Homo sapiens: one gene and its partner. The protein of the gene in region 2 purifies or fractionates together with the protein of the main gene of each other region. This does not show direct contact. Each region holds a gene or a part of one and is shown on either strand. Other genes may lie near its edges.

Region 1 (3,500 bases), on a different chromosome or scaffold from region 2:
GGTTGGCCCCATCCTCTGGATGAGGAAATTGAGGCAGAGAAGGCAGAAAGCCCAGATCACGTGGCTATGAGGAAGAGCTGGAGCCAGACTGGCACCTTCTCCTTTGTTAAGAGGCTTTTTTTTTTTGAGGCAGAGTTTCACTCTGTCGCACAGGCTGGAGTGCAGTGGCGCGACCTCGGCTCACTGCAACCTCTGCCTCCCAAGTTCAAACAACTCTCCTGCCTCAGCCTCCCGAGTAGCTGGGATTACAGGTGTGCGCCACCATGCCAGGCTAATTTTTGCATTTTTAGTAGAGATGGGGTTTCACCATGTTGGTCAGGCTGGTCTAAAACTCCTGGCCCCAAGTGATCCTTCCACCTCGGCCTCCCAAAGTGCTGGGATTACAGGTGTGAGCCACCGCACCTGGCCTTTTTTTTTTTTTTTTTAGACAGTCTCTGTTGCCCAGGCTGGAGTACAGTGGCGTGATCTCAGTTCACTGCAACCTCCGCCTCCTAGGTCCAAGCGATTCTTTTGCTTCAGCCTCCCAAGTAGCTGGGATTACAGGCATGGCACCATGCCTGGATAATTTTTGTATTTTTAGTAGAGATGGGGTTTCACCATGTTGGCCAGGCTGGTCTCCAACTCCTTACCTCAAGTGATCCGCCCACCTCGGCCTCCCAAAGTGCTGGAATTACATGCGTGAGCCACCGCCTCTGGCCTGTTAAGAGATTTGATTAAGGGACAGCAAAGCATGCCTGTCCTAGGAGTGTGGGTCAGAAAGCATGTACCTCTGAGCACACCTGTATTGCATGCATCCGGGACAAGGTATGGAGGGGGTTGGACAGGCAATTGGGGCCAGGTGGTGAATAGCTTAGACTTCACTTAGGGCCAGACAGGAAGCCACTAGACCCTATCATTGAGCATGAAGGCCACCACTGACAGTAGGTTAGCAAATAGGTGTGGCTGCATGCCCATAAAACTTTACCAAAGGGGCCGGGCATGGTGGCTCACACCTGTAATCCCAACACTTTGGGAGGTCAAGGCAGGTGGATTACAAGGTCAGGCGTTCGAGACCAGCCTGGCCAACATAGTGAAACCCCATTTCTACTAAAAATACAAAATATTAGCCGGGCGTGGTGGCGGGTGTGCGTAATCCCAGCTATTCCGGAGGCTGAGGCAGGAGAATCGGTTGAACCTGGGAGGCAGAGGTTGCACCATTGTACTCCAGCCTGGGCGACAGTGCAAGATTCCACCTAAAAAAAAAAAAAAAAGGGCCGGGCGCGGTAACTCATTCCTGTAATCCCAGCACTTTGGGAGGCCGAGGTGGGCAGATCACAAGGTCAGGAGATCGAGACCATCCTGGCTAACACGGTGAAACCCCATCTCTACTAAAAATACAAAAAATCAGCCGGGCATGGTGGCAGGCACCTGTAGTCCCAGCTACTCAGGAGGCTGAGGCAGGAGAATGGCATGAACCCGGGAGGAGGAGCTTGCAGTGAGCCGAGATGGCGCCACTGCACTCCATCCTGGGCGACAGAGCAAGGTTCCGTCTCGAAAAAACAAACGAACGAAAAAAACACAAAAAACCTTTACCAAAGAAGGCAGTTGGCTAGTTGGCTATAGTTTGTCAACCCCTGCTCTCTAGAATATTCTCAGCCCCCGTGAGTTTCCCTCATACCCCTCCTGGTCAGTCCCCCACCAGTGATACCTCTCCTCACTTCAAACATCATGCATTGGCCAGGCACAGTGGCTCACACCTGTAATCCCAGCACTTTGGGAGGCCAAGGCAGGCAGATCACTTGAGGTCAGGAGTTCGAGACCAGCCTGGGCAACATGGTGAAACCCCGTCTCTACTAAAATTACAAAAGATTAGCCAGGCGTGGTGGTGGGCACCTGCAGTCCCAGCTATTTGGGAGGCTGAGGCATGAGAATTGCTTGAACTCGGGAGGCAGAGGTTGCAGTGAGCCGAGATCGCACCACTGCACTCCAGCCTGGGCGACTGAGAGAGACTGTCTCAGAAAAAAAAAAAAAAAGGACCCTGTCTGAGGCAGAATGTGTGTGTGACACGCATCGGTCGGGGAGCCTCGGGACGTTGCCTCTGACCGAGGGGGAAACTAAGGCTCCTCAGCACAGCAATGGGAGCCCAGTTTGTGCACTCCAACAGCCTTGACTTTAACCGCCCCCTCCACTTTCCTGCTGTGCTGGTGGGGGTGGGGGTCAGGCCCTGGCAGTGTCCTTAGGTGCGTCCACCCCTATTCTGCGACATTCCCTTCTGTCAAATCTATCTGGAGATGCAGTGGTAGTGTCCCAGGGGGACACTGCAGGTGTGGGGATCGTCCCTGGGAAGGCTGAAGGTGTGAGAGTCAGATGGTGGAGTCTCAGGCAGTGAGGGGGCAGGCAGGGGTGTCCGAGACCAGGGCCCTGCAGGAGTGCCAGGCAGTGGGCAGAGTACTGCCCTGAGCTTCCAGCAGCACTGCATATAAACCGTGGGCTTGCTCGGCCCCCTGGGGTCCGTGCAGGCCAGGGCAAGGGCAAGTCCCGTAGCCCAGATGTCCCTCATCCAGCCAGCATCAGGGCTTCCCTGGGCGGCCGATGTGGAATCAGTTTCAGCCTCAGTGACCCACGGCAGGGAAACGTGGACAGTGCTGCCCGACTCATAAGGGCAGAGCCCCTGCCCTAGCCTGAAACGGGTCCAGGCCTCCCACGGCTCTTAGAATCCAACATGAACCCCTCCCTGGCCCCCAGAGGCTCCGCATGGCCCAGCCGTCTCCCTCCCGGCCTCTTCCCCCTCCCGCTTCACTCCCACTCCAGCCTCCAAGCTGTTCCTGTTACAACAAATGGCTCCTGCCTCGGCGCCTTTGCACTGGTAGCCCTGCTGCTAAGGACGCTCCTGTTCCCCAGCTCTCCCCCTTGGCCGGCGCTCTTCGCACCTAGGAGCGTCACTTCTTCAAGAGCCACCCACCCGCCCTGTCCAAGGTTCCCCTGTTGGCCTCACATCCCCCGCCCAGGGCAGCACCGGGACCTATCTTGTTCCTGGTATGTCCCCTGCACCCAGCACAGAGCCTAAATCCTCGTTGGCTGAGATGAAAACTCGAACCCCAGGCTAGTGGGTGGCGCGGGGGTGTGGGGTCTTCTGCCTGACCATGCACGCCGCCCCCGCAGGAGGAGAAGGAGAAGCGGCGCCTCGACCAGCTGGAACGTAAGAAGGAGACGCAGCGCCTACTGGAGGAGGAGGACTCCAAGCTCAAGGGCGGCAAGGCGCCGCGGGTGGCCACGTCCAGCAAGGTCACCCGGGCCCAGATCGAGGACACGCTGCGCCGAGACCATCAGCTCAGGGAGGCCCCGGACACAGGTCGGGCGGCATCCCGCTCTGGAGCTGCACTTTTGCCCACTGCAGAGGCAGTGGACCTTGAGTCCATTAGCCCCCTCCTGGCCCCCAGAGAAGCTGCCGGGGCTCCACGTGGTGCAGGGTGGGTGGGTAGGCCGCCTCCTGGTAGGCCTGGCCGTGAGCAGACAACCTC
Region 2 (3,900 bases):
CCCCCCCTTGCCAAGGACCTCCCTGATTGTATGGGGCGGAGTGGGGTGGGGGTGGGGGCTGGAAAGGGGAAGCCCACCCTAACTAAACGGAGGGGCGGGAGGAGGTTAAACTGAGGAAGCCACGAGCCCGCAGTAAAGAGAGGGCGATCGAGGCAAAAGGGTAGGTAACTTGGGACTTCTGTGCCTTGAAAGTGTTAAGGATTGCAGGGAATGCAGGCGCCTTTCATTTTACTTTGGGCACCCTCCCCTGGCTGGGCATTTAATGAGGAGTCCTACTGTGTGTGTTGAAACTCTGCATAATACCGTAAAATATTCTGGCCCTAAATTACACTCAACGGAGAGATTTAGGCAGATTACAATCCTAATTGGCCGCAGGGTGCTGGGGAAAGGGGACAGAGAGAATTGGGGGATCTGGAATTTGGTGTGCTATCACTACACCGCAGCTCTATTTTCCATTAAGAAAAAGATCATATGACGAAGTCGAACTAAGAGATCTGAAGTAAAAAATGAAAAGATGGAGCAAAAGTAAGAAACATACTCTGAGACGAGTGGGTTTTCCCCCTTTATTCCAACAGCAATCTTAAATGATGGACGTCATGTAGCAGTTATATATCTATGAACATGCATGAGAGATTTATAAATACCTGCATACATAAATACAAACATCCTATTATACATGAGAAATCGTAAATGCTTGGGCATCAGAAGTGGGAGCTGTGATCCTAGCTTGGGGGCAGCACAGGGTAGGCGGCCTTCTCTCTGCTTTGAGTGGCTTCTGGGCGCCTGGCGGGTCCAGAATCGCCCAGAGCCGCCCGCGGTCGTGCACATCTGACCCGAGTCAGCTTGGGCACCAGCCGAGAGCCGGCTCCGCACCGCTCCCGCACCCCAGCCGCCGGGGTGGTGACACACACCGGAGTCGAATTACAGCCCTGCAATTAACATATGAATCTGACGAATTTAAAAGAAGGAAAAAAAAAAAAAAACCTGAGCAGGCTTGGGAGTCCTCTGCACACAAGAACTTTTCTCGGGGTGTAAAAACTCTTTGATTGGCTGCTCGCACGCGCCTGCCCGCGCCCTCCATTGGCTGAGAAGACACGCGACCGGCGCGAGGAGGGGGTTGGGAGAGGAGCGGGGGGAGACTGAGTGGCGCGTGCCGCTTTTTAAAGGGGCGCAGCGCCTTCAGCAACCGGAGAAGCATAGTTGCACGCGACCTGGTGTGTGATCTCCGAGTGGGTGGGGGAGGGTCGAGGAGGGAAAAAAAAATAAGACGTTGCAGAAGAGACCCGGAAAGGGCCTTTTTTTTGGTTGAGCTGGTGTCCCAGTGCTGCCTCCGATCCTGAGCCTCCGAGCCTTTGCAGTGCAATGTCCCGCCTGCTGCATGCAGAAGAGTGGGCTGAAGTGAAGGAGTTGGGAGACCACCATCGCCAGCCCCAGCCGCATCATCTCCCGCAACCGCCGCCGCCGCCGCAGCCACCTGCAACTTTGCAGGCGAGAGAGCATCCCGTCTACCCGCCTGAGCTGTCCCTCCTGGACAGCACCGACCCACGCGCCTGGCTGGCTCCCACTTTGCAGGGCATCTGCACGGCACGCGCCGCCCAGTATTTGCTACATTCCCCGGAGCTGGGTGCCTCAGAGGCCGCTGCGCCCCGGGACGAGGTGGACGGCCGGGGGGAGCTGGTAAGGAGGAGCAGCGGCGGTGCCAGCAGCAGCAAGAGCCCCGGGCCGGTGAAAGTGCGGGAACAGCTGTGCAAGCTGAAAGGCGGGGTGGTGGTAGACGAGCTGGGCTGCAGCCGCCAACGGGCCCCTTCCAGCAAACAGGTGAATGGGGTGCAGAAGCAGAGACGGCTAGCAGCCAACGCCAGGGAGCGGCGCAGGATGCATGGGCTGAACCACGCCTTCGACCAGCTGCGCAATGTTATCCCGTCGTTCAACAACGACAAGAAGCTGTCCAAATATGAGACCCTGCAGATGGCCCAAATCTACATCAACGCCTTGTCCGAGCTGCTACAAACGCCCAGCGGAGGGGAACAGCCACCGCCGCCTCCAGCCTCCTGCAAAAGCGACCACCACCACCTTCGCACCGCGGCCTCCTATGAAGGGGGCGCGGGCAACGCGACCGCAGCTGGGGCTCAGCAGGCTTCCGGAGGGAGCCAGCGGCCGACCCCGCCCGGGAGTTGCCGGACTCGCTTCTCAGCCCCAGCTTCTGCGGGAGGGTACTCGGTGCAGCTGGACGCTCTGCACTTCTCGACTTTCGAGGACAGCGCCCTGACAGCGATGATGGCGCAAAAGAATTTGTCTCCTTCTCTCCCCGGGAGCATCTTGCAGCCAGTGCAGGAGGAAAACAGCAAAACTTCGCCTCGGTCCCACAGAAGCGACGGGGAATTTTCCCCCCATTCCCATTACAGTGACTCGGATGAGGCAAGTTAGGAAGGTGACAGAAGCCTGAAAACTGAGACAGAAACAAAACTGCCCTTTCCCAGTGCGCGGGAAGCCCCGCGGTTAAAGATCCCCGCACCCTTTAATTTTTGCTCTGCGATGGTCGTTGTTTAGCAACGACTTGGCTTCAGATGGCAGCTACATTTGATGGTTTGCAAATGCCGCCGCTGTTCCAAACTTCCTACGGTCCATATTGTTTGATGAAAACTTTCTGTTAAAATTGTGTCCTTTCCGCCCACCTTCTGCTCCCCCTTTAGATAGATACGGTATAATTGTAGGTACCCGTATATGGCATCATTATTCTAGTTCCCTGCTGCCAATACGCTGCTAAAACGTCGCATCTTCTCTGTCACTGGTTTGGGTTTAATTTATTTTACGCCCTGGGCATCCATCCTTGTGTGTTGCGCACTCAAGTGTGGGAGATTTAGTCTTCCGAAGTTGTTTTCCAAAATGCACAATGAAACGCAAAATTAGTGCTTCCAAAGTGGATAACTTTTGACTATGGAATTGTTAGAAAACAAGAAACTTTAAGGTTTATATATTGTATAAACATACCCAGTATGTGCATCCGATCGCGAGAACGTTGGCGTCTTTTAGGAAACTCCGCGCACGCACTTTATCAGCCGCTGCTGCGGTGGTGGCTCCAGGAGAAACTCAACTGCCAATTGCAGACCAGTTTTTTTTTTTTTAAACACAGCCACTTATAATTCTTAAGCTCTTTGCAAATGTTTGTTTAAAAAATGAAAAATTAAAAAAAATCTAGTAGTGTCAAACGCATTTGGTCAATTTTATTTTGCTTTGTTAATATTAGAAAACTTATTTATTATTGTTTGCTACCATTTCTACTTATCTTGATTCATTTTTTACGTTTTCTACTCGAGATCATTTTATTTTAATTTAGCAAAGCCAACTGCCCTTGTTTAATGTATTTTGTTTTGCAAATGATTAAAATAAATGTGAAAAGAAGCCTTTTGTCACTTATTCCTTGAGTATAACTACTGAAAACAATTTTCAAATGAATGACTTTGAAGAATTGAGTTAAGTCTTCTATTCAATGTCATTTATGCGATCTTACAGTTTTGAAGAAAAATGTTGTAAACTTGGTGCCTTCAGGTAGTATCAAAACCCCTTCAAAGAAAAGCACTCAAGTCAATAATTAAATTGTGAGATAAAACTTCTTCCAAATTTGCAGCACAGTTTTGCCTCTTTGATGGCCAGGATCTTCCCAGTCTTCTTTACTCCTTGCCCCAACAACATCTGCAAGGGGGGGAGGCCATAAGTTTTAGGTTTGCTAGAACCTAGCCTGGAGTAGTTAACTTTACCAGGGTTAGCTATGTCCACTCATAAAACCTACTCAAGCTGAAAATTTTTCACATAGGTCAAGCGCAGTGCACACTGTCTATGCCTCTCTCTCTCTCTCTTCTGGGAGAAGAAGACCAGAAGAGACAAAGATGATAACAGAAA

The links. Proteins that work in one complex are often made in the same cells at the same time.
Region 1: the proteins of ATOH1 (region 2) and CCDC124 purify together in Homo sapiens (affinity purification with mass spectrometry, with the first as the bait; one study listed by BioGRID). This does not show direct contact.

Annotation. Positions count from the first base shown.
Region 1 is NC_000019.10:17,939,515-17,943,014, forward strand, and holds part of CCDC124 (coiled-coil domain-containing protein 124), read left to right. Parts: intron 1-3,141; coding exon 3,142-3,331; intron 3,332-3,500. UniProt on the Homo sapiens protein: Ribosome-binding protein involved in ribosome hibernation: associates with translationally inactive ribosomes and stabilizes the nonrotated conformation of the 80S ribosome, thereby promoting ribosome preservation and storage.
Region 2 is NC_000004.12:93,827,565-93,831,464, forward strand, and holds ATOH1 (transcription factor ATOH1), read left to right. Parts: upstream 1-1,188; 5' UTR 1,189-1,362; coding exon 1,363-2,427; 3' UTR 2,428-3,400; downstream 3,401-3,900. UniProt on the Homo sapiens protein: Transcriptional regulator. Activates E box-dependent transcription in collaboration with TCF3/E47, but the activity is completely antagonized by the negative regulator of neurogenesis HES1.